Regions from separate parts of the Homo sapiens genome. Here region 1 is linked to region 2. The links come from fine-mapping of genetic effects on gene expression. A gene starts in region 2. The other region holds a variant in brackets. All regions are shown on one strand. Distances are from middle to middle.

Region 1 (4,383 bases), 87 kb before region 2:
TAAGTGGGTGGAGATATTGGTGGGATGTTCTAGGCTAGTCTTCGGTGTAATAAATTTGAAGCAGTTAAGTGAAAAGTAGAAGGAACTGTTTCCGCCCGGTTTCGAACCGGGGACCTTTCGCGTGTGAGGCGAACGTGATAACCACTACACTACGGAAACCGGCTTGATGCTTTTCTGCCATCATAATTAGTCACGACACACGGCGGTATTTTATTTCTCATAAGAGTTCTGAGCTTCTTCCGTGGGTCCCTTTGAGCTTGGTAATGGGTATGAGCGCACAAGAATACAGAGTCCAGTGCAACCATTTAAAAGGGGAGGGTTGCAGAGTCAGAGAGTAGCTCAGAGACACAGCACAGCTGAGTGAATGTGGACGTTCACTTGAACACAAACACACAGAAACCAATTAGTTGGCTGATTTTCTCGAATACACACACATAGAAACCAATTAGTCGGCTGATTTTCTCGAATACACACATAGAAACCAATTAGTTGGCTGATTTTCTTGAATACACACACAGAAACCAATTAGTTGGCTGATTTTGTTGAATACAGGTGAATGTAGGGTTTATACAAGAAAAAGAGGAGAAAGGAGAGAAGCACCACAGCTCCTCTTGAAACAGTGAGTCTTTTTTTCTCCTGTAGGTAAGTTGCTTGGCTAGAGTTTGCCACAAGCATATGTCTGGGCACTGCCCTGAATGGGCTGGCTGAGCTCACTGGGAAACTATTTAATTATGTATAGTTTCCCCCAAAAAACTTAAGTCTGCAATGCTTGCAAAGTGCAGGTTGTGTCTGCACCGTTTTTTATCATTATAATTCTTCAGAAATTAACATAACCTTTCAATTTTCACTAAAGTGTACAACCAAAGCAACAGAACAGAATTCAGCATTCTTTTATTTCTCAAAAACAAAGCAATTTCCAATTGTTTAAGGGTAGTAATATAGTTTGTATTTATGTCCTCGTCAAAATTTACGTTGAAATGTAATTCCCAATATTGGAGGTGGGGCCTGGTGGGAGGTTATTGGATCATGAGGATGGATTTCTCATGAATGGTTTAGCACCACGGCCTTGGTGCTGTCCTCCCTATTATGAGTTCTCCCCTGATAAGGTTTTAAAAAGTGTGTGGCACCCCCCGCCTTCTTGCTCCCACCTTCGCCATGTGATGTGCCTGCTCCCTCTTTGCCTTCTGCCGTGATTGGAAGCTTCCTGAAGCCTCGCCAGAAGCAGAAGCTGGCGGTATGCTTCCTGCACAGCCTGCAGAGCCATGAGCCAATTAAGCCTCTTTTCTTATCAATTACCCAGCCTCAGGTATTTCTTTTCTTTTCTTTTCTTTCTTTTTTTGAGACGGAGTCTCGCACTGTCATCCAGGCCAGAGTGCAGTGGGGTGATCTCGGCTCACTGCAAGCTCCGCCTCCCGGGTTCACGCCATTCTCCTGCCTCAGCCTCCCGAGTAGCTGGGACTACAGGCGCCCGCCACCGCGCCCTAATTTTTTGTATTTTTAGTAGAGACGGGGTTTCACCATGTTGGTCAGGCTGGTCTCGATCTCCTGACCTCGTGATCCGCCCGCCTCGGCCTCCCAAAGTGCTGGGATTACAGGCGTGAGCCCCCGCGCCCGGCCGGGATTATCGTGTTCTTGCGGCTGAGTGGTGCTCTGCTGCGCATCCACCTCGGTGCCTCCGCCCACTCCTGCACCGACGGCCGCTGCCTTTGCTCGCAGATCTGGGCTATTGTGAACAGCGCTGCGGTAAACGTGGCGGCACAGACATCTCTCGGGCAAACCGAGGATGCGATACGGATACTTCCTCCGTCATTTCCACTCCCCTTTCTCCAGGCCCTGAAGCTCCGTCTCCACGCCCGAACTCGTGGCCTCCCATTCCCCAGGCAGCTTCTCCCGAATGTCCCCTCTCAGAAACCGGTGCCAGCGCGTCCCCGCTGTGCCACCCCCAAGCCCACTGCCAACCCCGCACAGTTCCGCGTCCGCCGTCTCCTCTCCCTGCGGTCGCTGCCACACCCTCTCGTCCGGTCTCCCATGCCCCCTTATGCTACCGCGTCGGGCATGAAAACTTCCTTTTCTTTCTTCTCCTTCTTTCCTTCCTTTTGAGACAGGGTCTTGCTCTGTCTCCGCCGCTGGAGTGCAGTCACAGCTCCCTGCAGCATCAACCTCCTGGACCTAAGCAGTCCTCCCACCTCAGCCTCTGGAGTAGCTGCGCCTGGGGACAAAGGTTCCTGGCCTCAGCGCACTCTCAGATTCACAGGGAGACAGAACTGAGACTGAGAGCTGGTTCCTCTCCCTCTCTCGTGGGGATACAGTGAGAAGGCAGCTGGGCAGAAATCAGGAAGAGGATCCTTACCAAGAACTCCAGTGTGCTGCACCCTGATCTAGACTTCCAGCCTGCAAAACTGTGAGAAATCAATGTTCGTTGAGCAGCCTGGCATATGGTATTGTGTTACAGCAACCCGAACCAAGACAAAGGTTCTCAGCTGGGGAGACAGAAACTCATCTGGAGCCTGCACTCCCCCTGGGGAGGGGAAGATGCCTGTCGACCTGGACAGAGGGC[CT/C]TGGACAGAGGCAGCCCTGGGCTGAGTTGGCCCTTGCTTGCCGCTTCTGCTCGGGGGCACTGGGACAGGATCCCGGAAGGTTCCAGAATGCATGTCAAGCAAGCAGCAGCCCCTGTGGAGTTTGGGGTAACATGCACAGAGGAAGAAATGGCGGAAAAGCAGCATCAGGATGGCTTTAGGGCGGGGAGCTGCTGGAAGGTGGCAGACAGAGTGAGCAGGGGCAGGAGATGGGCCAGCGAGGCACCCGCTGACATGGAAGTGCCGTCATGCACTGCACAGCAACCTTCCAGGCAAGGAGGGACACGTGCATGACAGTGGTCCCATGACTATGATGGAGCTGAAGAATTCCTATGGCCTAGGGATGTCATAGCCGTGGTACTGTCGTAGCACAGACATCACTCGTGGGAGCGATGGGCTATGCCACCCAGCCTAGGGGTAAATGAGGTGCACCTTCCAAGAGCCACCTAATCACCATTTCCCAGAATGCATCCTTGTTGTTAAGGGGCCCGTGACTGTATGTCTTGGGAAGCAACACGTGACTGTTGTCCCGCCCTGCACTGACTGCCCAGCGAGCACTCAGAATGCATTAGATATGGGGTGGACAGAGGAGGAGGACAGCACCAGAACCCAGACAGCAACCGCCCTTGGAATCACCATTTCCTGAACCAGGGGACCTCCCCAGCCACCCACACCAAAGCCTAAACTCTCATACCTCCTCTCTCTAAAGCAGGGGTCTGCAAGCTTTCTCTGCAAGGGCCACGTATGGAATCTTTTCAGTTTTGTCGGAAGTACCCACGTCTGCCCTTTTGGTGCCAAAGCCAGTAAAGGTGACACATAACGAGAGGGAGGCGCTGTGTGCCAATGGGACGTGTGTGCCAATGGGACTTGACTCAGACACCAACATTCAAATTTCATCTAATTTCCACATGTCATGAAATATTATTCTTTTAATTTTTTCAACCAGTAAAAAGTGTAAAAAATGTTCTTAGCTCACTGGGCGGTAGAAAAATAGATTGCAGGCTGGGTTTGGCTTGAGGGTAGTTTGCTGACCAAGGGAAAGGGAAAAAAACCAAACTTGCTCTAACCCACCTCTCTCCCTCCAGTCCCATGCAGTCAGTCCCACTTCCCTTTTTTTTTTTTTTTGTAACCACAAAATTATCTTCACCATTAATTTTTCTTGCTTTTGACTTGGTTTTCTATTACACAGGTAACTCTATTCTCTCCAATGAAACTACACCATTACCATGTGCTCAATTCCCAAACACATTTGAGTCTCTTTATTGCTTCAGTTCCACTCCATTGATCTTCTTGGTTCTTCCTGCACCAGGACCAAAGTTATTACAGTTAGTAATACATGGAGGCTTATCTTTGTGCAGATTTCTTTGTACTGGGATTTTCAGAAGACTTTCCTAGCCCTGGAAGGCTGGTGTAAAAGAAAGGTTTCTTTCATGTCTATAATTCCTCCCAAACTGCCCTCTAGCAGGTGAGCCCCTTGTGCTCCCACAAGCAGGGTGCTAGGCCGCCAATTCCTTACCCTTGGTGGGTTCTATAAATCATTGCAACATTGGCAATTGGCTAAGCAAGAAATGTCTTACTATTGTTTTAACTGAGTGTATTTTTTATACATTCACTTATTTTATTCTGGAATTGCCTGTTCATATCCTTTGCTATTTTCCCTCATGGAGGTTTTAATGGTTTAACCAATTTTTAGAAGTTCTTTACATGTGTTTAATATATAAATATAAATATTTACTTATTCCAGACATTTGTTATATTTTATATGTAATGTGTGTATTATCTCCTAATCTGTTATATGTGTTGCAAA
Region 2 (4,383 bases):
TCTCCCGGGATTGCCCCCGGGCCGCCTCCAGCACAGGGCAAGCCTGAGGCTCGAGCTGGGCGGGCGCGCTCCTCTTTTCTCGCCTCAGACCTACTCTCGCCCTGCGCACTTTAATTGCACTGGTTTATTTAGTAGTAAAAATAGTGATGCGGTTTCCTGCTGTAAAATTCGCGATAATCTACTCAGAGCTGATGCACAGGTTTATTTTTGTGTCACCAGCAGAGACATTTCCTACACTGCTGTAAAACAGCGTGGGATGGTGGTTAAGCTACTCCGAGGAAACAATGCTCATTTTTCCATTCGCACGCTCGGCGATCTTGCTCCGCCGTCTGCGACCGCCACTGTCCTCGCCCCTCCTCTCTGCCTCTCCACGCTGGACTCCCCTGGGTGCCGTGGCTGGCTTTCGGCTCTTCCAGCAGTGAACATTTCAGGTGAACGGACCCGCCCCAAGGGTCCTCCCCACCCGGCATAGCTCTCCCTTGTCCCAAGCCTCGCACCCACGCCTCCCCCAGCAGCTGGACAGGAGCGCCAGCCTGGGAGACCTCCCGGCACCTCACCCAGATCCCACCTGATTCAGCCAGGTGACCCGTGAGTGTACGGGAGCGGCTGTAACGCCCAGACTCTGAGAGCCCCCGAGTGCGAGGCCTGAGGTTCATCCACCTGTCTCTTCGATGATTATGGGGACCGCCTGCCAACACCCCCACACACAAGCAGACGCACGCACCCTGGGAGTCCACGGCTTTCGTCGGGAGGGTATCTGTAGTTAAGCCGTCAGGTAGCTCGCCACTGGTCCCCGTGACCCGACTTCTACAGTGGGGTGATCTTCCTGTGGGGCAGGCGTTTCGGGGTCCACGAGTCCGAGGAGCCCCGGGAGCGCTAGTGCCCGAACGTGCTGGCAGGCTCCTGGCCTCTCCCGAGCGAATCCATCCCGGTCTTGACCCACGGTCTCGGCTCTTTGGACCGGAGCAGGCATGGGTGAGAGAGGGAAGCGCATACCTCCCGGCCGGAGCCGCAGACCCCGCTCGCTCCTCCACGCCTCCCAGTCAAGGCAGTCACCCCTCCGGTCTCTACCCAGGTGGCCCCGAGCGATTTTCTCTTCTCTGGTTCACCGGACAGGGATTCCGTTTTCGAACCTTGAGCTACCCTGGAGTGGTCCCGGTATAAGCCGCGGCCCCACCTGGGACGGGGACTCGCTCAGAGCTTTTTTGAGGTTCCCTCCGGCTGGAGAGAGGGCGCCTGCGACAGGGGAGTGTACGGCGGGACCCAGCGCCGCCTCCACCTGTGCCCAGGCCTCCAAAGTGCGCGGTGCGGGGAAGACGGAGGCGGGAGCCGTCCCGAGACCCCCAGGGGGCCAGTCCTGCACCTGGGCAGCGCCCCCACTGTTCACTGAGGACTTGGGCTCACTTTCTACACTTCCGTTAACAGCAAGAATAAATCAGTCAGAAGGCCAGCATACCTTAGTTATATATTTTGTCTAAAATAAACTAAAATTTTGTTTTAGGCTGAAAGCGAATGTGACAGGTAGAGCCGTTACTCCCGGGTCATGAATGTGGCCGTCTGCGCTTTTCCGTGTTAACTCCACAGGAAGAAATCAGACCTTGCAGCACGGAGGCGGCGGGGACCCGAAGGCCGAGGGCGCGCAGCCGCCAAGCGCAGAGCCGCAGACCAGAGCCTCAGCGCGCGCGTCGGGGAACGCCGCAAACAAACGCATGGCGGGAAGGGGCGCGGTAGTGCCATCGTCTCCCCCTGGAGAGAGGGAAGGAGACACGAGGGCGAGTCCCTAGCTGGAGTGGGAAGACCGGAGAGAAGCGGAAAGACGCTCCCGGGGAGCGCGCAGAAGGAAGTGAGCGGGGTCGTGGGGAGAGGGCGCGCGGGGCCCAGGGAACCCGTGATGGAAAAGGAAGCCCGCAGTGGGTCTGACTCTTCAAGAGATAAGGAAGTGGTAGGAAAGTAGCCTTGCGCGGTGGGTATCTTAGAGGCAAAAAGAAAGTGACTCCGCCAGGCTCTGGCCTCCCAGGAAGGCGGAAGTAGGCTTGCCTATCTTCCACTTTTCTATCTTTAAGGAAAGAATAGGAAAAGACGGAAGCAGGCCCCAGCGAGATTTGAACTCGCGACCCTGGTTTACAAGACCAGTGCTCTAACCCCTGAGCTATGGAGCCGGCTGTTGGTTTCCTTTTGACACAAAAGCAGTTGACGCTGTCGCCGGCGCCGCGCAGCCGCAGTCCGCTGAACCCTCGGCCGAGTTCTGTGGCTGCTGGACCCAAGCTCCTCCCACGGCCGCAGCCATCTTGCCCGTGCGTCCGTGGCACGGAACGGCCGTTAGTCCCGGCAGAGGGCTCCGCGAAGACAGTGCCGTCGTTGGGCGCGCGCGCGGGCGGGAGCTGTCGGGGCGGGGCGGCACCGCCGAGCTCCGAGCTGTGAGGACCGCCCCGGGCCTTGGGCGGGGCGGGGGCCAGGGAAGGGCGTGCGCAGGATTGGGGAGCACGTTTTGCGTCTTGCTGTGCGTGAGGAAGCGGGGATCCAGGTCAAGGCTATGGAAAGGTCAGGGAAGGGTGTCAGTGCGCCCGTCCTGCAGGGAGTCCAGATCCGAGAGGTTAGGGCGGGACCTGGGGCGAGCTGGGCGGTGGGGGAACAGTGGGGTCATCAGGAGGTGGAGGCCCAGCGGGAGTGTGGCGGGGGAGGCGGGGAATCAGGAGGGCCAGGTGTTTGGAGGCGCTGGGGTGGGAAGGGTCCAGGCGAGGTTGCGGGTGGGTGCCAGCCCCGTCTCACATTTGGATGAAGTAGGAAAAGGCAGCTTTTAGGGTACACCCTGACATGTTCTGTCAGGGCCCTTAAAGGGCCCACGGGCCGGAGGAGAGGGGAAAAGGATGAGGGCTCAGCCTGGCAAAGGACAGAAAGTGGTGGGTGTAGGAGGTGGACCTTGGTCTGGTGGCCTAGCCTGCCCTGTGCTCCCTGCAATGCCGGGTGACTTGGGTCACTGGGCGGCCAGGCCAGAGGTGGGCCTCTAGGTGCCCCCCATTCTGGATGCTGAGGGTCCCTGTGAGGGTCTGGCGGCAGAGGCCTGCGCTTATGGGTCAGCAGCTAGGACTGATGGGTTGAATAAGAAGGGCCCAAGTTAGGCCAGTTGTTCTCACAGACCCAGAGGTCCCTAGAGTTTATGATGCCCAGAGTCTAGGAGAGGGAAATGCACACACATGCCCTCGAGGACACCAGCATCCTGACATCCAAGTTACTGTACTGCCCTGGTTAGCAAGAAAGAACATCTGTTCCCTTCTCTATGCAATTGTTACAGTAACTGTTGTTACATTTCTTAAGATACATAGCTATATATGTAGTCACTCTGCAAACACACACACTCTGATAGACACACGATTGCACTCATGGACACAAAAACGGAAAATAAACATGCGGACAGCTACTCCCAGTCCCCAGACCTGACCCTCATGTGACACCTTCACCAGACATGGTACTTTCTGGGACCTGTAATGTGTGTTGTGATGCCCAGCACATTTGTTGGATGGTACAAAGGGAATTATGATACTTAATCAAAAAGCCATACAAGCCAGATAACATTAAGGCTTAACGGTAACAATAGGTGATTCAGTTAGGAAATTAATGTTAGAGATCGGTTTTCCTTGTGGAAATCAGTGGTATTCAAATGCCTGAATTGGCTACCCGGTTTTAGAGCTGCTCTCCATGTATGAGCAGGACATAGGATTCACTCTCTGGAATGCTTCTGTAGGCAGGACTTTGAAATGACCCTGTCCTCAGCCTGGAGGATGCGGTATTCTGATTGTCTGGTGCTGTGTCAACTGGGCCTGCCTCTGGGATAGTGTTGTGGCTGCCCCACGAGAACCCTATATGCCAGGTGAGCTTGAAGCACCTCAGAGACAGAGCACTGAAGCTCCATGACACAGGGCTATTCAGCTATCATTGCCCCTGTTTGCCAGCACCTCTGTCTAAATAACTTGTGTGGGACAGAATTAGGTCCGAGTCTGGTATTCTGTTCATCTAGCCTGGTAGCCAGGTAGTGAGAGAAGAAACCTGTGGCCCTTGTCTAAATATGAGGTGGTCAGTATTTAACAACAAATCAACAATAGGGTATGACCAGACTGACTTGGGTCTGTTTGCAACACCTGAACCTTATGCACATGCTCATAAATGCCCTCTCCAAAATACACACACACACCCCCAAGAAAGGTGAGATACAAATACACACTCCTCCCACACAGAAACATGCATGCTCATTCACTCTGGCAGAAACCCTGATCACACTTACGCTCCTGCACTCAGATCTAGGGAGTAGAAAATGGGCCAAGCCAACTCCAAAGACAGCTCATAGTTTCATTTTCATCTCCTCACCCCCTTCCCAGGGGAGCGCTG

Direction of the effects. Alleles are on the strand shown, and positions count from the first base shown. SD is a standard deviation of normalised expression in the study named.
As copies of CT replace C in region 1, the expression in thyroid of the gene that starts at base 2,309 in region 2 goes down (moderate effect, 0.42 SD a copy in GTEx).

The links. PIP is the estimated chance that this variant, and not a neighbour inherited with it, causes the effect.
Region 1: its variant is fine-mapped to the expression of LINC01962 in thyroid (GTEx, PIP 0.94).

What each region holds. Positions count from the first base shown.
Region 1 is chr5:181,102,167-181,106,549 of GRCh38, forward strand. TRV-CAC1-3 (tRNA-Val (anticodon CAC) 1-3) reads right to left here and starts at 159; the gene lies at 87-159. RefSeq lists enhancers at 2,195-2,696, 2,697-3,196. The variant CT/C (reference allele first, on the strand shown) is at 2,558.
Region 2 is chr5:181,189,600-181,193,982 of GRCh38, forward strand. LINC01962 (long intergenic non-protein coding RNA 1962) reads right to left here and starts at 2,309. Exons shown (of 2, transcript NR_108031.1): 1 at 2,143-2,309; 2 at 1,447-1,746. It overlaps TRT-TGT6-1 (tRNA-Thr (anticodon TGT) 6-1), which reads right to left and starts at 2,159; the gene lies at 2,088-2,159. TRIM7-AS2 (TRIM7 antisense RNA 2) reads left to right here and starts at 2,291. Exons shown (of 2, transcript NR_183285.1): 1 at 2,291-2,541. TRIM7 (tripartite motif containing 7) reads right to left here. Exons shown (of 7, transcript NM_203293.3): 7 at 4,325-4,383. RefSeq lists silencers at 1,288-1,417, 2,038-2,117, 2,298-2,637 and an enhancer at 2,098-2,277.